Regions from separate parts of the Homo sapiens genome. Here all the other regions are linked to region 3. Evidence: fine-mapped QTL for protein levels in blood plasma. A gene starts in region 3. Each other region holds a variant in brackets. All regions are shown on one strand. Distances are from middle to middle. Region 1 has its middle 16 kb from the start of REG1B. Region 2 has its middle 19 kb from the start of REG3A. Region 3 holds the start of REG1B (regenerating family member 1 beta).

The links. PIP is the chance, under the fine-mapping model, that this variant and not a neighbour inherited with it causes the effect. Protein levels are from antibody-based Olink assays in UK Biobank. Linkage for the fine-mapping came from a reference panel and not from the study's own genotypes, which makes the PIPs less certain.
Region 1: its variant is fine-mapped to the plasma level of the REG1B protein (UK Biobank, PIP above 0.99).
Region 2: its variant is fine-mapped to the plasma level of the REG1B protein (UK Biobank, PIP above 0.99).

The regions. Positions count from the first base shown.
Region 1 is chr2:79,099,952-79,108,137 of GRCh38, forward strand. No RefSeq gene overlaps it. Among named protein-coding and RNA genes, the nearest start is that of REG1B, 16 kb to the left of the region's middle. The variant T/G (reference allele first, on the strand shown) is at 3,092.
Region 2 is chr2:79,137,044-79,145,229 of GRCh38, forward strand. It overlaps the pseudogene REG1CP. Among named protein-coding and RNA genes, the nearest start is that of REG3A, 19 kb to the right of the region's middle. The variant A/G (reference allele first, on the strand shown) is at 3,208.
Region 3 is chr2:79,083,208-79,091,393 of GRCh38, forward strand. REG1B (regenerating family member 1 beta) reads right to left here and starts at 4,786. Exons shown (of 6, transcript NM_006507.4): 1 at 4,752-4,786; 2 at 4,342-4,451; 3 at 3,605-3,723; 4 at 3,160-3,297; 5 at 2,285-2,396; 6 at 1,816-2,076. The coding sequence starts at 4,405. The coding sequence ends at 2,009.

The DNA.
Region 1 (8,186 bases), 17 kb after region 3:
AATTATATGTTTCTAAAATATATGGTGGGACAGGCATAGGATAGACAATTCCATAACAAAAGAGCAACAGAAAATAAAAAGAATTAACAGGCTCCCACTAAGTCCAAACCCCCACCAAAAAAAAAAAAACAACAACAACAACATTAAATCCCGACATTTGAGAATTTTTTGTTTTGACTTCAAGTCCCACTATCAGCACAGACTGGGGCAGGGGTTAGGCCTCCATGGCTTTTCTGGGAGCAACCAATGCAGCAGCTCTCACAGGCTGGAATATTATCCCCAAAGTTCGCTGCAGCTGGGGCTTCCAACTGTTACTGGGAAGTGCAGGAATTTTTGATTAGTTTTAACTGGAGGAAGAATTCTGCCAAGCGATTGATTTAACCAAAAAAGAGAATGTATTGAAGGAAAATAGAGAACAGAGAGTTTATTTCCTCTTTTTGGCTTATATTTAGCATGCCTGTTTTAGGTATTCTCTGGGGTGTAAAATTTTTCAAACCTCCCTTTTGTCATGAGTTCTTCCCTCCTGCTTATGTTTAGCTATTTGCCTAGCAACCCCCCAACTAATGTTTCATTAGGAATTGTCCTAGTGGGTAATCTCTGTGGTGGCCTTGCACCTGTGTCAGTTCTCTCTTTGAGCCCTGAGGCTCCCTGACACATTTTTTGAAATCTAGCTCCTACAGTCAGCAATCCTGGAGAATTAACATGCTATGGACACCATCAAAACTTGTGCCCTGTGCCTTCTGGAGTGATGGCCAGCACCACATCTGGGCTTCGTTAAGCCATTTCTGAGATGGCTTAAAAGAGCTGCTTAGGAATGCAGGAATCAGAGATTTGAGGAAGCCCTGAGTAGTGAGTAACAAGGTCCCAAGGGCTCTCAAGAGTCCTCTTTTGATCTAATTCTGTTCTCCAGGCATTGGCATTCTGTCTGGGTTTGTGATGGGAGCTAATCTCCTTATCAAAATTTGGCCACACCCTAGGTTTTTCTTTTTTGAATATGCCTTTTCTTTATTTAAAACACAGCCAGACTAAGAATTTTCCAAATCTTTACTTTCTACTTCCTTTTCAATGTACATTTCATATTTAATTTTTTCCCCTTTTCTCAAGTTTTACTATTGACAGTTTAAAAAAGTCATGCAGCATCCTTAACAATTTGCTACTTAGATATTTCTTCCACCAGATATCCTAACTTGTGGTTCTTAAATTCTGCCTTTCGTAAAATGTTGGGACACAAAGACAATTCAGCCATGTTTGTTGCCTCTTGGTAAAAAGGATAACCCTCGGGTCATTGTGCAATACCATGTTCTACAATTCCATCTGGGATCTCATCAGAATTACCTCTACCATTCATATTGCTATTATTCACTTGAAAACCACTTAAGTAATCTCACTGCTGATTTAGGTTTAGCCTATAGCTCTCCTCTTCTTGAGCCCTCACCAGCATAGCCCTTAACACTCTGTTAATAGCAATCTAGGCTTTTTTCTAGCCTGATCCTCTAAACTCTTCTGCCCTCTGCCCATTACTCAGTTCCAAATCTGACACACATTTTTAGGTGTTTTTTATAGTAACAACCCCACTTCTGGTACAAATTTCTATCTTAGTCCATTTTCTACAACTAGAAGAAAACACTTGAGACTGGATAATTTATAATAAACAGAAATTTATTTTCTGACAGTTCCAGAGACTTAAAAGTTCATTATCAAGAAGCTGGAATCTTTCAAGGGCCTTCCTGCTGTTTCATGACATGGCAAAAGGCTGAAGGGCAAAGAAGCAAAAGGGAATGAAACTAGCCATTTTATAATGGTATTAACTTCACCTATGAGAACAGAGCCTTCATGGCTCAATCACTTCTTAAAGGTCCATGTAAAAATGATTACAATGTTCAATTAAATGTCGACATGAGTTTAGAGAAGATAAACTTGATAATTTTTCCTTGATTTTCTTACTATCTTCATTCTTCTGAAACCTGGTTAATATTCATCTCCTCAATTGGCATAATGACATTTGTTTAAAGGTTATATGGTTATCTGTCTTACACTTTTTGTCATTTCATAGCCAGAAATACGTTATCGGTTTAATTTAGATTTGTGAATTTACCTTGCCTTGGAGACATGTCGTTGATCCTCTGAGGAAAGGATCCTTTCACTTGAGAGAAAATCCAGTTTGGGTTTCCAAATTCCACTTCTATTCCTCAGCCTCATATGTTACAGCAATTTATATTCTGCTAGTTTTGTGCCTTCTGTATTTAAAAAGGAGAATGTTGGCCAGGCACGGTGGCTTATGCCTGTAATCCCAGCACTTTGGGAGGCAGAGGCGGGCAGATCACGAGGTCAGGAGATCGAGACCATCCTGGTTAACATGGTGAGACCCCGTCTCTACTAAAAATACAAAAAATTAGCCGGTTGTGGTGGTGGGCACCTGTAGTCCCATCTACTCGGGAGGCTGAGGCAGGAGAATGGCCTGAACCCAGGAGGCGGAGCTTGCAGTGAGCTGAGATAGCACCCCTACACTCCAGCCGGGGCGACAGAGTGAGACTCCGTCTCAAAAAAAAAATGTATGTAATAATAATAATAGTAATAAAATGTTCTTTATTGTGATACATTGACACATCATGTAAATTCTTGCTTATGTCATTAGTGAGGAAGAGGTGATAGATACCAGGTTGGCATTCTTCTAGTTTTAGTTCATTTTGTGTGCTATAACAGAATGAAATAACTGAGATTGGGTAATTTTTAATGAGCACAAATTTATTTTTCTAATTTTTTGAGACGGGGAAGTCCAAGATCAAGTTGTCAGATATTGATGAGATAATTTTTGCTACATTGTTGCATATACACAGAATAAAAAGAAAAATCTATCACAGTATTTGCCTGGAGAATTTATAACTTTTTAAATAAAACTAATAATATTAAACAAAGATGACAAACGTTGACATTATTTATTCTACTTGGCAGGTTCATAGGTGTTTGTTATGTTAATCCAACTTATTTCTGCATTTAGTAAAAATATTTATGCTATCTTACAAGCTTATAGCCAGGTTAAGATATCTTTTTTCTTATAAATAAGAAAGTCAATCATATTCTTCAGACTTCA[T/G]AAAAGATACAGTAGGTAGGAGTCCAGTATACTTGGTACCATAATAAGTGTATCTTGCAAAAAAAATGAACAAGTAATTAATAGTTTAAAATTAAAAAAATTCTTTGTGGCATAATTTTTTTAAATATGAGAGTTCTTATTTACTTCAAGAAGACTTAAAGCAAGCAAAAACATTCCAGATATAAAAGATCTAATACTTTAAAATACATAATGAAATACACTGTAACTGGCATGATATAAAACAGAGAGAGATTCAGTTCAATACTGTATCAACAATTGACACAGTATTCCCATAAAAATCTTTATTGCTACCAGTATCTGGAAACACATTGAGATGTTATTAACTTTATTGCTTGCACATGTGACTGGCCAAATTCCGCGTGCAAGCTAATAAAACTGATACCTTTACCTGGCAGCTACTTTGTTCCAAAGTGATGCCTTTTGCATATAAACTGTATTTCCTATCTGTTCAAGGTTTATCTCATTGTCCTCCAGAAAACAAGGCCCTTCCTGTGACATAGTTTTACAAGATTCCAAGAAGCTCATTTCAGGTCTTTCCCATCATATTCCCTCCAGCAGTCTTCTTGTATATGGAAAGCAGTCTCCTGGAAATCTAGTGTTAATATGTCCTTAAGTGGGGAAACTTTCTGATAAGCCTCCAATAACGCCAAGAAAATTCCAAGGCTATGGCTGATTCTAGGTGCTGTTTGCCATTTTCCAAGAGGTATTCTCTGCTTTCCACCTTTGGAATTGAGATTTTAGACATATGAGAGAGAGATAATCTCCCACTTGTTTAAATCCTTGGCAGGCATGTAAATAATAGCCTGTCTGCAAACTTTAGACTGGAAAAGAAAGGAGCTGAACAAATAACAAATGCAGCAAGGACATTCCATGGTCTGCTGTGTTCTGCAGGTGTAAGGAAACCTACTTATAAGTTAGCCTATTCTGCTTCACAAGAAACCTCTGATTTTTAAACATTAATTTTTGTCACATGCTGTCTATGCCAGGCACAATTCTAAATGCTTGCCTAATTAGAAACCATTTAATCCCCATGAAAACCTAATAATGTAGGTGCTGCTACGAACCATATTTGACACATAAAAAAAATGAAGGCAAGAGAAAGGCTAGGTAACTCCTGCAAGATTAAAACAGCTGCTAACACAGGAATAGAAAACCAAATATTGCATGATCTCACTTAAAAGTGTGAGCCAAACATCAAGTACATATGGACACAAAGAAAGGAACAACAGACACAGGGCCTACTTGAAGATAGAAGGTGGAAGGAAAGTAAGGATTGAAAATCTACCTATCAGATACTATGCATATTACCTGGGTGATGAAACAATCCATACATCAAACTCCTGCAACACACAATTTGCCTGTATAACAAACGTGCACATGTACCCCTGAACCGAAAATAAAATTTTAAAAAACCAAACAGCTACTATGTGTTGGCACTAGATTCAGACATGCAGTTTAGCTCCAGGGCCATTCCCTGAGTTCCCAAAATACTGATTTTCCTCTACTTATTTCCACATGCAACTCATCCAGCTATCTGGATTCTGAATGATTTCAACACATAACCACCCATTGATTATGGTCAAGGACAGAGGCTCCACAAGAAGAGCTTAAAAAGTGAATAAATGTAAGACATCACCCAATTCTTAACCTGCAATTTAATTTGTCTTTTACACACACACTAGCACCACAAACCCGTGTGTGTGTGTGTGTGTGTGTGTGCACGCGTGTGTGTGCTCCTGAAAGGAGGAATTGTTCTTTAGAATCCTCATGGCCTGGTCACCACATAAAAGTCCCACCTCTTAACATTGTTCCAATGGCAATTAAATTTCAACATGAACTTTGGAGAAGACAAACATTCAAACTGCAGCATTCTAGCTGCCTAAAAATCATGTATTTCTCAGGTACAAAATGTTTCATTTCATCCCAAAAGCCCCAAAAGTCTTAGCTCATTATAGTATCCTCTTAAAAGTCTAAGGTCCAGATTATCATCTAAATATAATCAAAATCAGATACGTGTGAAAGTCAAGTATGATTCATTCTGAGGCACATGTTTCTCCAGCTGTGAAATCAAGTAAGTTATGTACTTCCACAATATAGTGATGGGACAGGCACAGGATGGACAGCCTCATTCCAAAAGAGAGAAATGGAAAATAAAAATAAATAATAAGTCTGTAATAAGTCTGTAATAAGCCCAATTCCCACCAAAGCAAATAACATTAAATCTTGAGGTTTGAGAATAATCGTCTTTGGCTCCAAGTCAAACCTTCTCTACATATTGGGGTGAGGGTTGGGCCCCCATGATTTTGCTGGATGCATCCCAGGAAGTAGCTATCAGAGGTTAGAGTCTCTTTTATGCAGCCCTCTACAGGTGGCATCTCACACTGCTGGATCTACAGTTAGGGTTTTGAAGAAAACCCACTCCCCAAAGTTCTACTAGTAATTGCCCTAGTGGACAAACTCTGTGGTGACCCTGTCCTTGTGTCAATTATTTGAGCCCCGAGTCTCTCTGAGGCATCTTTTGAAATCTATAATAGGCAAGGCTACAAAATTAGCAACCAGTGGGCACTGCCAAGATTTACATCCTGCACCTTCTGGAATGGTGGATGTAGCCACAAGTGAGATCCTTTTTTTTTTTTTTTTTTAATTATACTTTAAGTTTTAGGGTACATGTGCACAATGTGCAGGTTAGTTACATATGTATACATGTGCCATGCTGGTGCGCTGCACCCACTAACTCGTCATCTAGCATTAGGTATATCTCCCAATGCTATCCCTCCCCACTCCCCCCACCCCACAACAGGCCCCAGAGTGTGATGTTCCCCTTCCTGTGTCCATGTGATCTCATTGTTCAGTTCCCACCTATGAGTGAGAATATGTGGTGTTTGGTTTTTTGTTCTTGCGATAGTTTACTGAGAATGATGATTTCCAATTTCATCCATGTCCCTACAAAGGACATGAACTCATCATTTTTTATGGCTGCATAGTATTCCATGGTGTATATGTGCCACATTTTCTTAATCCAGTCTATCATCGTTGGACATTTGGGTTGGTTCCAAGTCTTTGCTATTGTGAATAATGCCACAATAAACATACGTGTGCATGTGTCTTTATAGCAGCATGATTTATATTCCTTTGGGTATATACCCAGTAATGGGATGGCTGGGTCAAATGGTATTTCTAGTTCTAGATCCCTGAGGAATCGCCACACTGACTTCCACAATGGTTGAACTAGTTTACAGTCCCACCAACAGTTTAAAAGTGTTCCTATTTCTCCACATCCTCTCCAGCACCTGTTGTTTCCTGACTTTTTAATGATTGCCATTCTAACTGGTGTGAGATGGTATCTCATTGTGGTTTTGATTTGCATTTCTCTGATGGCCAGTGATGGTGATCATATTTTCATGTGTTTTTTGGCTGCATAAATGTCTTCTTTTGAGAAGTGTCTGTTGATGTCCTTTGCCCACTTTTTGATGGGGTTGTTTGTTTTTTTCTTGTAAATTTGTTTGAGTTCATTGTAGATTCTGGATATTAGCCCTTTGTCAGATGAGTAGGTTGCAAAAATTTTCTCCCATTTTGTAGGTTGCCTGTTCACTCTGATGGTAGTTTCTTTTGCTGTGCAGAAGCTCTTTAGTTGAATTAGATCCCATTTGTCAATTTTGGCTTTGGTTGCCATTGCTTTTGGTGTTTTAGACATGAAGTCCTTGCCCATGCCTATGTCCTGAATGGTAATGCCTAGGTTTTCTTCTAGGGTTTTTATGGTTTTAGGTCTAACATTTAAGTCTTTAATCCATCTTGAATTGATTTTTGTATAAGGTGTAAGGAAGGGATCCAGTTTCAGCTTTCTACATATGGCTAGCCAGTTTTCCCAGCACCATTTATTAAACAGGGAATCCTTTCCCCATTGCTTGTTTTTCTCAGGTTTGTCAAAGATCAGATAGTTGTAGATATGCGGCGTTATTTCTGAGGGCTCTGTTCTGCTCCATTGATCTATATCTCTGTTTTGGTACCAGTACCATGCTGTTTTGGTTACTGTAGCCTTGTAGTATAGTTTGAAGTCAGGTAGCGTGATGCCTCCAGCTTTGTTCTTTTGGCTTAGGATTGACTTGGCGATGCAGGCTCTTTTTTGATTCATATGAACTTTAAAGTAGTTTTTTCCAATTCTGTGAAGAAAGGCATTGGTAGCTTGATGGGGATGGCATTGAATCTGTAAATTACCTTGGGCAGTATGGCCATTTTCACGATATTGATTCTTCCTACCCATGAGCATGGAATGTTCTTCCATTTGTTTGTATCCTCTTTTATTTCCTTGAGCAGTGGTTTGTAGTTCTCCTTGAAGAGGTCCTTCACATCCCTTGTAAGTTGGATTCCTAGGTATTTTATTCTCTTTGAAGCAATTGTGAATGGGAGTTCACTCATGATTTGGCTCTCTGTTTGTCTGTTGTTGGTGTATAAGAATGCTTGTGATTTTTGTACATTGATTTTGTATCCTGAGACTTTGCTGAAGTTGCTTATCAGCTTAAGGAGATTTTGGGCTGAGACAATGGGGTTTTCTAGATATACAATCATGTCGTCTGCAAACAGGGACAATTTGACTTCCTCTTTTCCTAATTGAATACCCTTTATTTCCTTCTCCTGCCTAATTGCCCTGGCCAGAACTTCCAACACTATGTTGAATAGGAGTGGTGAGAGAGGGCATCCCTGTCTTGTGCCAGTTTTCAAAGGGAATGCTTCCAGTTTTTGCCCATTCAGTATGATATTGGCTGTGGGTTTGTCACAGATAGCTCTTATTATTTTGAAATACGTCCCATCAATACCTAATTTATTGAGAGTTTTTAGCATGAAGAGTTGTTGAATTTTGTCAAAGGCTTTTTCTGCATCTATTGAGATAATCATGTGGTTTTTGTCTTTGGCTCTGTTTATATGCTGCATTACATTTATTGATTTGCGTATATTGAACCAGCCTTGCATCCCAGGGATGAAGCCCACTTGATCATCGTGGATAAGCTTTTTGATGTGCTGCTGGATTCATTTTGCCAGTATTTTATTGAGGATTTTTGCATCAATGTTCATCAAG
Region 2 (8,186 bases), 54 kb after region 3:
TCACTGACCACCAGCATCTCTGTGCTGAATGATGGGATAAAGTAGATTGGAAAGTTTTGGGCTGATGATTGGATAGGGAGGGGATTAGTCTCATCTCATATCAGCCACTGAACACACTGGAGAGTGGCAGCTTCCCCTCCCTTCGTGAGCCTCCCTTCCCACACTGCTCTCCTCACTCACATCTGCATAAACCCAGGTCTCATGCTCTTCATTAAAGTAGTAGCAGTGGGAGCCTTAGGCACTGGTGCCTTCTGGGCAGCTGATCTGGGCCTTGGGCAACTCAGCATGGGCCTCCTGTCCTGGGAAAAGAGAGACAATTAAGAAAGACCCTCAGGGCAAGGTAAAGGCTAAAATATGAGGTAGGAGCTTCTGAGGATTCTTTATAGGAATAGAAGGATCCTATAGGTCACGAAGCGATTGGTCACTTCTGCCCTTCTGCATCTTACCTATAGGCTCTCAAGATGTCTTTGCTCAAGACAAGAGCACACAATGAATAGGCTCATGAAAAGTGTCCCCATTGTCCCTTTTACTTATGGCTTTTTCTTCCTTGAAGGACTGAGGCTTCTTTCTCAAGCCTGTCCAGTTTCTCTACACACAAAGCTCCCCTCAGTTCCCCATTCCACTAATGACTGTCTACAAACAGACATCCTCAACCCCCCCATCATGAGTAGTGTTAATATGACAAACCAATGCCAACTGCAGTGGTCACTGATAAAGGGTTATGCTAAGTTCCATCTCTAACTCCTTAGGGAGGTCAGGATGTTTTTGAATGGGATGAGATCAGCAATAAATATCACTGAACAACACAAGACAACCCCTGAACTTGACTCTGCTTTTTCTCAAGTGAACTCATATGCATGAGGATAGAGTGAGGGCTTCAGGGCTGGGGTTGTGGGAGGTATGTGTGGGGAAAACAATCTCACCTTGGCTCAGAGACAGGAACATCAGGCAGGAGATCAGCATGAAGCATGAGTTGGTCTGAGCCATGCTGAGCAGCAGTGAATCTCTTGCTTAAGGAGCAAATCAGCAATCTCTATAGGAAAACACAGGGAAGAGGGTTTGAGAGAATGAGAGCAGAGCACCTATTACCTTCCTTATTTCCTCCTCTGAATTCCTGACAGCAGGAAGGTCCTCTGAGATATCTACATTCCCATATATTTCTCTTGAGAATCTGGAAACTATACAGGCTCAGTAATCCAAAATAACTTTGGCTTCTACTGAGGCTTCGTTACTGCTGACACCTCTTGGACAGATGACGCTGTATCTTCCCCAAGATTTTAGATTACAGCCCTTGTGAAAGGTACCCTTCTCCTGTAATGCCCACTTACTTGTTGGCTGAATCTGAGGTGGCTTTTCAGGCTAGGTAATGGTAGAGATGTATAACAGGATCTGAGAGAAGAGCCACAGTATTTAAGCCGGGGTGGAGCAAGGAGTGAGAGACAGCGGTTCTACAGAGGGCATTGACAGTAAGAGGTTCTGGCATCAAGAGGAGCTCTTCCTGGCATATCCTGGGAATGGCCACAGATGAAGTCCCTTCCCCTAAACTGGAAACCTTTCCAAGTTCAAGGCAGACCTTGCCCTTGCTCAGCAGAAACCAGATGTCCTATCCTGCAGCCCTGAAGATCCAGCAAGCAGCTGAGACCTTCCAGGAATCTTGGCAGCTGTTATGCAGGCTAGGCCAGCAGTAGTAGAGGCAGAGAGAGTGAGAACCTGGAGTAGGGCCGTCTTTGAGACACAGGGAGAAGGGAGCTGCTGAATGGTTATGGAGCATCCCTGTTTGGAGCAGTGGGGCAAATAGAGTTTAAAATATTGGTAACTTAATTGACTTTTCCAATACTGTACTATGGAAGAAAGCAGAGCTAAAACTCAATTCTTCTTTTTTTCTCCTTCGTAGTCTAATATACTGTTGTTGTTGCTGTTGTTGTTGTTGTTTGTTTGTTTTGGTCTCTGAGCACCCTCCACTTGCAGGTTCTGTCAGTCCATGTATGGTCAGTCCTTCTGCACTGTCCATTTCCTGACAAGACCACTGCCTGCATCACCCTGTTATAACCTTTATGTACTTCTCAAACCATTCATGCATTTCAATTTGGACTGTCCCACAAGTAGCTGAAAAGCCTATGCTTTCCTTCCTCTGTTGAGCACACTTTTAAAACCATCAAGATCACTCTCTATCTTTTGCAAAAGGAGCTCCAGGTTCTTTCTGAGAATCTCCCTTACTGGATTTGCTGGCTTGCCTTCTGATCCTACCATCCAGTAGAATTTCCTATTGGTTCTTTTCAACATTGGCATTTTCTCTACTTAGCCAATTAAAGAACACAATAGGGCCAGACCTAAGAATTTTCCTTCATGTTGTCTCCTTAGCATAGATTAAAATAGCCTTATAATGCACCAGAAGATAGGTTAAGATCTGTTCATTAAAATTTTAGAGGAACCAGGTCTTTGATCTTTGGAGAAGGTAATTATAACTCACAAGAGGATTCCAGACTAATCCCCATATATGTTTTTCCCCTGTAAAGTCAGTTTATTAGTTTAACTTGGCTGTGTGACAAACTTTCACTCTCATTCAGATTATTGACTGAATTCAGTTCCTTGTAGTTGTAGAGTTGTAGCACTGAGGTTCCCACTTCCTTGCTGGCTATCAGCTTAGGTGCCAGTCTCAGCTAGATTCCTTGGTACAAGAACCTCTCCATCTTCTAAGCTAGCAACAGGACAGTGAATTCTTTTTGGCCTTTGAATTTCTTGACTTCCCCTTATGCTGCCAGTCAGAGAAAATTATCTGCTTTCAAATGGCTCACGTGATTAGACTGGGCCCCTCCAGGAATCTCCCAAAACCTGCTTTCTTATTGATACAAGGTCAATGAATTAGTAACCTTCATTGTATCTTCAAGAATCCCTTTTTCCATGTAATATAACATAGTTGTGGTTTTTCAATCTCATCCTATTTACAGGTTCTGCTCACATTCATAGGGCACACATTACATAACATCAAGGGTCATGGGGGTCATAATTCTGCATAGCACAGCATGGCAAATAATTCATGCTCCTCTGCGATGAACCTCACTCAAACTTGTATAAGGGGAACAATTACTCTATTTCCCACATGAAAGAATCAAAAGGCTTCATACCTAAGACATTTCCTCTGGACTTTCATGTTCATGCCCTTTCAGCTAATGTCCCCCTCCTCCAACTAATCCCCACTTGCATAAT[A/G]CTTCATCCCCTAACGATTTATCTTCATATCTTTTGATTAAATTCAAATTACTCAATTTATGACTGCTAATCCTCAGGAACAGTCCCTCTATCCTTGATGGTGGCTGAAGTACCCTTGCTAAAGCCCCATAAAACATTTCACCTTCCTGCCCCAAGTCAGAATGGCCCTTGGGACTCTTCTTAGGCCAAGAACATTTTCTTTTCTTTTTTTCTTTTTTTTTTTTTTTTTGAGACGGAGTTTTGCTCTGTCGCCCAGGCTGGAGTGCTCACTGCAAGCTCCGCCTCCCGGGTTCACTCCATTCTTCTGCCTCAGCCTCCCGAGTAGCTGGGACGACAGGCACCTGCCACCACGCCCGGCTAATTTTTTGTGTTTTTAGTAGAGACGGGGTTTCACCGTGTTAGTCAGGATGGTCTCGATCTCCTGATCTCGTGATCCACCCGCCTCGGCCACCCAAAGTGCTGGGATTACAGGCGTGAGTCACCGCGCCCAGCCAGAACATTTTCAAATAAAGTCTTATGCTACTGACGCTTTGTAGCTATCCCATCTAGGTTTGTGTAAGTACAGTCTTTGATGTTCACGTGAAAATGAAATCACCTAAGGATGCGTTTTTTAGAACATATCCCCATAGTTAAATAACCTATAATTGTATTCTCTGGCACTTTATACTCAAAATGTTCAAAGATTCCAACTATTAAATGGTCAGCATTTTAAAAGTTGTTACGAAGATGGCTTTAGAAATATAGATAAATTCTTAAAGAAACAAACAAAAATCCTAAAATTTATTTTTGTAAGTGTTGTTGAGGATAGGCTAATAAAAACTCTGACTGTATAACCCCAAATTTTAGTAGTGCTCTGGTTGATTTTCTTCCATACTTATTTTCTTACAAGATTCCCGAATCTGTGATCCTCTTGAACTCCACAGTATTTGATGTTTGCAAATGTTTGGAAGGACATTTGTTTTACCTTCAGGTTTTCTTTGGGGAGACATTCTTAGAAAGCTGAGCTGTTCCTGGGCCGGGTACAGTGGCTCACACCTGTAATCCCAGGACTTTGGGAGGCCGAGGTGGGCGGATCATGAGGTCAGGAGTTCGAGACCAGCCTGGCCAATATGGCAAAACCCCATCTCTACTGAAAATACAAAAATTAGCCAGGCACAGTGGCAGGCACCTGTAATCCCAGCTACTTGGGAGGCTGAGGCAGGAGAATCGCTTCAACCCGGGAGGCAGAGGTTGCAGTGAGCTGAGATGTGCCACTGCATTCCAGCTGGGGTGACAGAGCAAGACTCCATTTCAAAAAAAAAAAAGAGAGAGAGAAAAAGAAAGCTGAGGTTGTTGTTTTCTTCCAATGTGCTGCAAGCAAAAATCATTTAACTTCATGTCAAGAATTATAAAGGTTCTGAGATTTTTACCCTACTTGCAAGGTAAGGTAGACTTCCACAGTTTGAGATTGGCAAAAGACAAAGGACTTTTATTACTCATGGTACAGTAAGCAGAACAAGCAGCAGCACACTCACCCTAGGTTCCCTTACTCTAAGTCTCATGGAGGTGACATCGATGGGCCAGATAGATGCCTTCACATTGAGTGGGTTATGTTACAGGGGAGAAATGGCCCCTGTAATTACATTATGAGAGTTTAGGGAACGAACCTGAATCACTTATAATGGGCAACAAGCAAGCCTACCCTTTGCTTCAGAGGGAGACTTCTTTATTGTACCTGGGAGTAAGTATGCCTGTCTTCACTATGAATGGAAACTTTCAAGACTATAAGCAAACCTACCCTTTGCTCTGGAGGAAGATGCTGTCTCTACTTTTAAAGGTTTTTCACAGCTGGATGCGGTGGCTCACGCCTGTAATCCCAACACTTTGGGAGGCCGAGGCAGGTGGATCATGAGGTCAGGAGTTCAAGACCAGCCTGGCCAAGATGGTGAAACCCCGTCTCTACTAAAAATACAAAAATTACAGCGTGCCTGTAATCCCAGCTACTTGAGAGGCTGAGGCAGGAGAATCGCTTGAACCTGGGGGGCGGAGGTTGCAGTGAGCCGAGATCGCGCCACTGCACTCCAGCCTGCATAACAAAGCAAGACTCCATCTCAAAAAAACAAACAAAAAAAAAAAAGGTTTTTCACTACCCAAACATTCTTGAAAGATAGTCTAGAAAAAATGGCAGTAAGTGCCTCTGCTTGCAAGAAGTGGAGAAACGTGAGACAATTGTCTCTCAACTCTTCTCTGAACATTATTTTCTCTCTCCATAAAACAAGAGGGCTCTTCACACTTAGAGTAGTCAATGACTTTTAGAAAAAGATGATTTGTGTGGATTTAATTGTCTGAGGAAAGGTCTGTGGGAAGTTGGCAGCAGAGAGATGATAAGCTTTTGAAAATCTTTAAAATGATGGAATTGAAGAAGGAATGCACCAAAAGCATTATACAACTGGAAAACTTTTCTCATCCCTATGATAAATTTCAAGTAGCACCTAAGACATTACATGCACATTCTACAGACAGCATCTCTGGCTAACATTTTCTTGATAGAATACCTCTTGGTTTCTAAATACCTCAACTCCACACAATGTTTATGTTCCTCAGTGCAACATTTTTTCAGCCAAAGCTGAAATGTTTTATATATGCATCTCCAAATATCAATGTAAATATTTTAATACAATTATAACTGGACTAAATCTCTAGTTACATTTCAAGTACAATGAATGAAGAAACAGAATCATGTGTACTTTGAAAAGAATACTGAGAGTCAATAAAGGGGTCCTGGTCATGGGTCATACGTGTTGCTGGTGTAAAAAGAGACTCATTGGACCACGGCATTTCATACCAAAAAAAATGGTTTTTGAGAAACACATTATTCATCTTCCAATAAGGGAGCTAAACTTTTAAAGAATTTTTCATCTCAGCATGACATTTTGCCATTTATATATAGATATTTAGATTTTACATAGTAGTGAGATCATGCAGTATTTGTCTTTCTGTGCTTGGATTATTTCACTTAATATAACATCCTCCAGGTTAATTCATGTTGTCACAAATGACAGGACTTCCTCTATTTTTAAGGCTGAATAACACTCCACTTTGTATGTATATACTTTTCTTTATCCATTCATCTGTTGATTGACACCGAATTTGACTCCATCTCAACTATTGTAAGGTTTAAGTGAACATGGGAGTGAAGATATCACTTGACATATGGATGTCGTTTCTCTTTTTTTGAGAAGGAGTCTCGCTCTGTTGCCCAGGCTGGAGTGCAGTGGCGCAATCTCGGCTCACTGCAAGCTCCGCCTCCAGGGTTCACACCATTCTCCCGCCTCAGCCTCCCGAGTAGCTGGGACTACAGGTGCCCGCCACCACGCCCTGGTAATTTTTTGGGCTTTTAGTAGAGACGGGGTTTCACCATGTTAGCCAGGATGGTCTCGATCTCTTGACCTCACGATCCGCCCGCCTCGGCCTCCCAAAGTGCTGGGATTGGATGTCATTTCTTTTGGATATCTCCCCAGAAATGGAATCACCGGATTATACAGTAATTCTTTTCTAATCTTTTGAGGAATCTCCATAGTGTTTTGAATAATTGCTATAGCAATTTACATTACCACCAGTACTATACAAATATCCCCTTTCCCCTGCATTCTTGCCAACAACTGTTACCTTTTATTTTTAATTACAGCCATTGTAAACGGTATGAGGTGAGATGACACTGAGGTTTTAATTTGAATTTTCCTAGTGATAACTGATGTTAAGCCGTTTTCCTCATATACCTCTAGATATTTGTATCTTCTTTGGAGAAAAGTTTGTTCAGGTCCTTTGACCATTTTTTAAATTGGGGTATTTTTTTGCCAGTTATTAAGTTCCTCATACAGTTTGAATATTAACCCCTTATCATATGTATGCTTTGTAAATATTTTCTCCCATTCTGTAGGTAGTCCCTTCACTCTAATATTTGTTCCCTTTCCTGTGCAGAAGTTTTTATTTTGATACAATCTCATTTGTCTCTTTCTGCTTTTTTACCCTTGCGTTTTTTCTATTATAACCAAAAAATGATTTTCCAGTTGATTTTGTCATACAGTCATAACATGGACAATGTTGTGACATTTCCCCCTAAGTTTTCTTGTAGTAGTTTTAGAGTTCCCAGTCTTATGTTCAAGTCTTTACCCATTTTGAGTTTATTTTTCTGTACAGTATGAGATAAGCGTCTAATTTTATTATTTTATGTATGCACGTTAAGCTTTCACAACACCATTTATTGAAGAAACTGTTTATCAACATTATCTATTCTTGGCATCTTTAAAAACTCCATTGACTGTAAATATGTGAATTTATTTCTGGGCTATTTTGCTCCATTGGTCTATGGATTTGTTTTTATGCTACTACAATGCTGTCTTGATTAATATAGTTTTGTAGTATATTTTGAAATCAGGTTGTATGATGTTTCCAGCATTATTCTTTTGGCTCAAGATTGCTGTGAATATCTGGGGTCTTTTGTGGGTCTATCTCAATTTTAAGATTATTTTTCCTACTTTTGTGAAAAATGTTATTAGAAATTCAACAGGAATTGCATTGAAACTGTAGATTGCTTTGGGTAGTATGAAGACTTTAACAATATTAACTTATCCAGTCTATGAACATGGGATAAGTTTCATTTATTTGTGTTTTATTCAATTTCTTTGATACCAGTTTTATTATTTTTATTGCACTGATCTTTTACTTCTTTGGTTAAATTTATTCCTAAGTATTTTTGTAGTTACTGGAAATATGGTTGTTTTCTTGATTTCCTTTAGGAGAGTTTATGGTTAGTGTAAAAATGCTACTAATTTTTGTATGTTTATTTAGTAACCTGAAACCTTATCAAATTATTTTATTACTTCTAATAGTATTTTTTAATGTAGTCTGTAGGGTTTTCTAAATGTAAGATCATGTCATTCACAAAAAGAGAGAATGTAACTTCTTCCTTTCCAGTTTCAATGCTTTTGCTTGTTTCT
Region 3 (8,186 bases):
GTATCTCCCAGTCATCAGGCACTGGAGTAAGGGACCCACTTGAGAAGGCAATCTGTCCTTTAGCAGAGCTTGCGTGCTGTGCGAGGAGACCCGCTGCTCTCTTCAGAGCCAGCAGACAGGAAAGGTTAAGTCTGCTGAAGCTTGGCCCACAGCTGCCCCTTCCCCCAGGTGCTCTGTCCCAGGGAGATGGGAGTTTATCTATAAGCCCCTGACTGAGGCTGCTGCCTTTCTTTCAGAGATGTCCTCCCCAGAGAGGAGGAATCCGGAGGGGCAGTCTGGTTATAGCGGCTTTGTCACACTGCAGTGGGTTCCACCTGTTTCAGGTATTTTGAGACATCTTCCTGAAGAATTAACTACTTTATTATTATAAAATACTCCTTTTCTTCTCAAGTAACATTTTTGCTTTAAAGTCAAATATGTCTGATATTAGTATCATTGCAGACAAAACCAGTCCCCCAAAAGATGGAGTCTTTCCCTATTTGGTGTCACAAAGCCAATACATGAAACAGAAAGTGAGTGTCAAGCACTGCAGGATTTATTTGATGGCCATGGAATTGAGAAGCAGGAACATGACTCACAAATTGGCTTCTCTGCTAGTGAGGGGTAAAGTGGTTAAAATATAGGGTTTCTCCAATGAAAGGACTGGGCATTAAAAACAAAGGGAGGAATATTCATGTCTTTTCTGGAAATAGGTTGTGAACTTCCTAGGAACCAGAGTGTGCTTCCTTTTTGTACCTTTATTGCTTCTTCTGGCCATTGTCATGGTGATTGTCAGCTGTCATTGTGCTGGTAGGAGTGTCATTTAGCATGGAAATGAGATTATAATGAACCAGATGTCTTTCTGAGGTCCTTTGATGGTGATCTTGATTCTAACCAGTATCAGCTGGACTAGTTATAAAGGAAACTTTTTACCACAGGCATTCTGTTTCTTAAAGATAAGCAGAGTTCAGACAGGGTAGAAATTCAGCAATCTCATATAGGCATTACACTGGGTAACAGTACAGAAACCAGTGTTCTTATGGTTTCTGTTTGCAAGATATGTCTATTTCCTTCCTTTTATTTTCAAGCTATTTGTGTCTTAATTTAACTCATGTCTCTCATACATAGCATACAGTTGAATCTTGTTTTCATTGTTGTTACTTTAATCCAGGATGACAATTTGTTTCCTTTGTTATCAAATCACATTTAACTCTATTATTGATATGATTGATGTTATGGGCTGAACTGTGTCCCTGCACAATTAATTTGTGAAAGTCCTAAGAGTAATATTTCAGAATTTAACTTTATTGAGAGTTAGGATATTTAAAGAGATGATTAAGTATGCCTGTATATTTAATTTACATAATTGATCATTCACTTATTCATTCATCCAAGGAGTAGCATTTAACAAACTTTGCAGGCTGGCCTCCAAAAATGTACCACTAATGCACTCAGGACCGCAGACCTGACAATTCTCCTTAAGTTATCATTTCAGTCATGACTTCAAATTGCATAACCAAGAACAGATGTGTTCTCCTCAGACCCCAACTATGCGAATTCTTCTGGAATATTAAATACTCCAGTCAGACTGGATCAACAATTTAATTATTTGTGTAATTCACACTAGGTTCATGCTAACATGTGTTGTGGATGAAATCTTAATCTTTTTATCTTGTCATAAACAAGGCCACCACATGTTCATAAGCCTGACATACATAAAATGTGAGTGGGGTTTTAACAAGTGGATGGGCCATGGCAAGCTCTGGAGTGTGACAATCATTCCCACCCCAACCACCCAAGCATGGGCTGTAGAAAGAGCAAATGCAGAAGACAGAACACTGGATAAAAATAAGTTTGTTTTTATTTTTCAGGGCTCTAGAGACTGAGACAGGTGAAGGTACTGAAGATCAGCGATGCAAACTCATTAGGGAGGAGATGGTCTGAACTGAGTTGGAGACATAGTCTAGTTTAATTTTTGACTTCATAGTAATTGCAGGACCAGTTCTAGACATCCATTTTTCAGCTTCCTCTAGTTTTTGAACTTGCAAACAAAGGAGAACTTCTTCTCACAAGATTCATCCTTCCATTTCTTGAATCCTATGGTACAATGAGAAGTGTCAGACATAGAGGATCAGAAGGAGTGTAGCCCCTCCTCAACCTAGGACTCAGAACAAAAAACTAGAGGAAATACTTCTTTATTTTCCAGATAAGGAGCTTACCTTTCCTCTATCCCAGTCCCCATGTTCATCCCCAGAGATAAGTGGGAAGGAAATGGCAACAGGTGGATAGATTGTCTGCCTCTCACCTGAGCATGAAGTCAGGCTTGCACAGTAGCCAGCATTAGCACTGCTCGGGGATCCAGTGTCCCAGGACTTGTAGGAGACCAGGGACCCACTACTCCAGTGCCAGCGGCGGTTCTAGATGGAGAAGGGCCAGAACAGGGGCCATGGTCACTCAAAAATCAATAGAATAACCAGGCCTGTGTGCACACTCAGAAACAGGCCAAGTTATAGCAGAAAGAATAAACATTGTTGTCACCATGAATATCATATCATTTCCTCTGCTTTTGCTCTAAGCTTCTCCTTCTCTAGAATGTCCGAATTCCTCCTCCTCTTCCAGCAAATAATAAGTGTTCAGAATTTGATACAGAGACCCATAAAAGCCCATTAAAGAGAGTGGTTTCTGATTTTTTTCCTGAATCTCAGAACTCTCATATCCAGCATAACATTGGCTGTAGAGTAGTCGTTGATATATTATTTAGTTTATAGTGTTAAACTAAATAATATACTGTACAGTTTTATACACTTGTATAAAATGTATAACAAATGCCAGCAGTAGATTCTCCTCCACTACTCATTTTCTATATAGTCTACAGAGGGACCTCTTCCAAGACAGACAATAGCAAAATAGGGAAAAAGTTGTACATAAAGATGCATTTCTAGAAGTAGACACAATGAGTGGGTGCATGAATTCCCAGAGCCCAGAAAATTCAGCCTTCAGCTCATGTCTCTAACTACCTACACTGAACTTCACAACTCATACATTATAGGATCTATAAAGAGGTTGCTTTTATTTAAACAAACAAAAAGATAAAAGTTGGTGATTGCGGTGCCAGACCTTAAACGTCCCTCTTACCTCTCAAAAATGTTTATAAGGAGATAGAGGTGGCTGCAGACTGACCTTTTTTGGGTCATGGAGGCCAATCCAGACATTGCTGTCATCAGTGCTACTCTCCTTAATCAGTGAGGCCACGAAGGCACCCTCCGCCTGGGTGAGCACAGACACCAGGTTGCCTGAATTCATGTTCTGGCAATAGAGCTGTTGGAGAAGAAAATGGAGCACTCAGTGGAGAAGGAAGGTGTGAGGGATATACTGAGACCTTCCAGAGGATGTAACAGAAAAAGGACAGCACAGAAATGTCCCTGATGATGCTGTCACTGACCACCAGCATCTCTGTGCTGGGAATGTGTCAAATGATGGGATAAAGTAGATTGGGAAGTTTGGGACCAGTGGTGGAATAGGGAAGGGATCAATCTTATCTCATTGCAGCCACAGAACACACTGCAAATTAGCAGCTGCCTCTACCTTCATAAGCCTCCCTTCCCCTGCTGCTCTCCTCACTCACATCTGCATCAACCCAGGTCTCAGGGTCTTCATTAAAGTAGTAGCAGTAGGAGCGATAGGCATTGGTGCCTTCTGGGCAGCTGATTCGGGGATTAGGCAGCTCTGTCTGGGACTCCTGGCCTGGGGAAAAAAAAAAGGAGATAATTAAGAAAGAATCGCAGGGCAAGGAAAAGGCTGGAAGGTGAATTAGGGGCTTCTTGGTGTCCTTTATAAGAACATATGGATACAGTGAATACTGGGGCGATTGCTCACTTCTGCCCTCCTGCATCCTATCTCTTTTCTCTCTAGTTTCCTCTGCTCAAGACAAGAGCTCACAATGAATAGGCTAAATAAATGAGTCCTCGTTTTCCTTTAATTCTGAGGCTGAGGCTTCTGCCTTTAAAGACCCAGGCTTCCTCCTTTCTCAAGTTTCTCTCGGTTTCCCTGCACACGTTTGCCTTAGCTCTCCATCCTAGCAATGACTACATAAAAACATCCCCCAAACTGCCATCGCATATAGATTCAATCAGATAAACTCAACCACAATGGTCACCTATAAGTGGTCCTATTAAATTCTGTCTCAAACCCATGAATGAGGTGAGGGTGTTTTTGAATGGGATAAAATCAGCCATAATGATCACTGAACAACATAAAAAAACCCTGATGTTGACTCTGCTTTTTTTCAAGTGAACCTTATACATGAGGATGGAGGGAAGAATTCAGAGTTGGGGTTGTGGGAAGTGTGGGGGAAAATCTCACCTTGGCTCAGAGACAGGAACATCAGGGAGGAGATCAGCATGAAGAACGAGTTGGTCTGAGCCATGCTTAGCGGCAGTGAATCTCTTGCTTAAGGAGCAAATCAGCAATCTCTGTAGGAGAACACAGGGAAGAGGGTTTGAAGAAGAGAGCAGAGCACCTGTTATCTTTCTAACATCCTCTCCTCTCTGAATTCCTGTGAGCCGAAAGGTCCACTGAGATAGCTACACTCCCAGATATTTCTCTTTTGGTTTGGGGATAACAGAGGCCAAATTACCCGAAATCAGCTTTGGTCTTGCTTAAGTTTCATTACTACTGGGATCTTTTATTCAGAAAATCACCCTGTATCTACCTCAAAATGAAAAGAGAAAATCCCACGTTAGACATGCTCTTCTCCTGTAATGCCCCTTTACCTGTTGGTAAGTGCCTTGTCCACTTGAGGTGGCTTGTCAGGTCAGACAGAGTAGGAGCTTTATATCAGGGTCTGAGAGAGAACTACATGATATAAACAATGGGTGGAGCAAGGAGTAAGGATCAGAAGGCCTACAGAGGGCACTGACAGTAAGAGATTCTGGCATCAGGAATAGCTTATTCCTGGCACACATTAGGAGTGGTCACAAATGACATCAACTTACCACAAACAGGTTGGCAAACTGTCCAAGTTGATGTTGAGCTTTGCTCTTCCTCTGCAGCATCCAGGTGTCCAGTTCCCATGGCCTTTAGCAGTCCTAGAAAGAGCAGAAGAGTAGATTTCTTTGTGCTAGGTAAATGTGGGATGATCCTTTCTTTGGTTTAGGCATGGGTAGGGGTAGGGGAAGAGTCAACTGAGTCCAAATGATTAAGCCCAATTAGCTGGTGGCTTTAAGTCATTTCTCCATTCCCTTTCAGGTTCAGGAACCTCTCAAGACCTACTTCAGAAGGCAAGGTGTATTAGTCCTTTTCATACTGCTATAAAGATAATACCAGAGACTGGGTAACTTAAAAAGGAAAGAGGTTTAATTGACTCATAGTTTAATTGACTCACAGACTTTCCTGAGGATGGGGAGGCCTCAGGAAACTTACAATCATGGAGACGAAGGGGAAGCAAAGCATGTCTTACATGGTGGCAGGTGAGCAAGAGAGAGTGGAGAGGGAAGAGCCCTTTATAAAACCATCAGATCTTGTGAGAATGCACTCACTATCAAGAGAACAGCATGGGGGAAACTACTCCCGTGATCCAATCACCTCCCACTAGGTTCCTCAATCCACACATGGGGATTATGAGGATTACAATTTGAGATGAGATTTGGGTGGGGACACAGAGCCACACCACATCACAAGGTTTAGTAGTTACGTAAATTTAAGCCAGCGTTTCCAGCAAGGTTTCAGCATAAGTAGCTAGCATGATACAGATGTTCTCAAAGTCCAAGCAGGTGGGAACTGCAGGGAGCTGATGCCTAAGTAAGCTCAAAGTAATGGAATATGAAGTTGTTGGTTTGAAGTCAATTGTCTGTTGTTGTGAAGTTACAGATAGTGATGTGAAATTAAAAGCTTACTGAAATTCCCATTAAATACCCATTCAGAATCAGGGAACAAGAGCAAATCTGGAATTTAAAATTCAGTTGAAAAACTAACCAAAATGTTCACAGAAATAAGGATGGCTATATCAATTGGGATAAATGACAAAATAATATATTTTGAAATACTAACAGGAGTTAAATTAAATAAACTAAATATATTTATATAAACATGAGCTCATTTCAAAAGCATATATAAACAAAATGAATTTTAAAAGTTGCAAAAATTTACAAACTAATAATATTTATATGTGCTTTAAAAAAGCTAATTATTTATATTTTTTTATCTATTCACATGTAGTTTAAAGTAAAATAAATCCGTAATAAAACACTATACAAAAAATTTTCATACTCATTAGAAATGCAAAATGTTTGTTTCTCAGTTCTGCAAGGAAAAGTCAGCATTCAGACAAAAAGTTCTCTCAGCGAGGCAATTTTTAATTTCTGCAGAAAGGATGCCCCTCACAGATGGAACAATGGCAAGGGCATACACAGAATGAAGAGACACCAGAATATTTATTCCTTACGCATGAGGTCCCTATTGCTGTGTCCTGTCTCCATTGGCTGGAGCCAGACCTCACAATCTAAATTAAAACCTGATTGGCTAATAATTTAAAACTTTTTAAAATAGGTACAAAAATAATAATATTTCCAAATAAGGAAGGGGCACAGGCTGTGAACTAGGACATACCTATGAGCACGTCCAACACAAATATCTTGGTTAAGGTACAAGGACATGGAATGTACTACGTGCCTGTGACTGTTCAACAGCTATATAAGATAGGGCTTAACAAAGAGTTATTAGCGTAAAGCGAGGGGGCTTGAAGGAAGTTCGTCTTTAAAATAAACTATTATTTCTAACACTTATGATTTATTCTTTAACAAGAAGGGAAACTTTGAACAGGGATCTTTTTACCGTTTACATTACTGTTTTCCTGGAGAATATATAATTTTGTCCCTTTATAATAATCATTTTAAACATAGATGACAGAGGTTAATACTGTTTAGTCTAACAGGTTCAAAAGTGTTTGTCAAACTACTCTAATTTATTTCAGCATTTTCTAAAAATAATTTTCTTTAAAGCTTACAACCAGAGAAAGATTTGAGTTTTTTTTTCTGTAAGAATTTCAATCATATTATTCAGAGTTAGAAAGGGATGAAGAAAAGAGAAATCTAGTATGCTTGTTACCATAAGTTTATCTTGCCAAAATCAAACGAGCAATTATTAGTAGTAGTAGTAGTATTATCATTATTTTTGAGACAGGGTCTCTCTTTGTCACCTAGGCTAGAGTGCAATGGCTCAAACAAGGCTCACATCAGTCTTGAGCCCCTGGGCTCAACTGTTCTCCCGCCTCAGCCTCCTGAGTAGCTGGGAGTATAGGCGCACACCTCCACGCCAGGCTAATTTTTGTATTTTCAGTAGAGACAGTGTTTTACTATGTTGCCCAAGCTGGTCTCAAACTCCTGGGCTCAAGCCATCTGCCTGCCTCAGCCTCCCAAAGTGCTGGTATTATGGGCAGGAGCCACTCTGTTGGGCCAATTTTTAAAAATTAATACAAAAAAATTATTTGTGGTAATTTTTTAAATGAGAGTTTTTCTTTACATCAAGAAGACTTCAACTAGACAATGACTTTTCAGGTACAAAAGATCTAATACTTTCAAATATATAATAAAACACATTGTGGCTAGCACGATATGAAAGCATTTTAAAACAAATAACAGTTGACGCAACTCTCATAAAATGTTTATTGCCCCAATAGCTGTATGCCCGTTTAGATAACTAACCGTTATTGCTCACATAGGTTACTGACCAAATTCCACAGGCCAGGTAGTAAAATTGAGGACATTTACTGGCAGCCACTTTGGTTCCAAAATGATGCCTTTGTCAAGGAAGCCATATTTCCCAATCCTTTAAGATTTATCTCCTTGTCCTCAGGATTCTGAAGGTCCTGTCCCCTGAACTAGTTTTACAAAGTTCTAAGAAGCTGATTTTAGGCCTTTCCTATCTATTTCTTCTGTTAGTCTTCACATAGGTGGAAAGGGGTAAACTGGATAACTAGTGTTAGTATATCCCCAAATGGGGGCAATTTCTTGATACGCCTCAATAAAGCTTAGAGAGTTTCAAGACTATGGCTTATTTTTAGCGCTATTGGCCATCTTCTATCTGCTGTTCCCTGTTTTCCACCTTTTAACAGATTTTAGACTTATTATGGAGACAGAATCTCTCTTTTGTTTAAAACTTTTGGCAGGCATGTGAATAACAGCCTGTCTGCAAACTTCAGACTGGAAAGG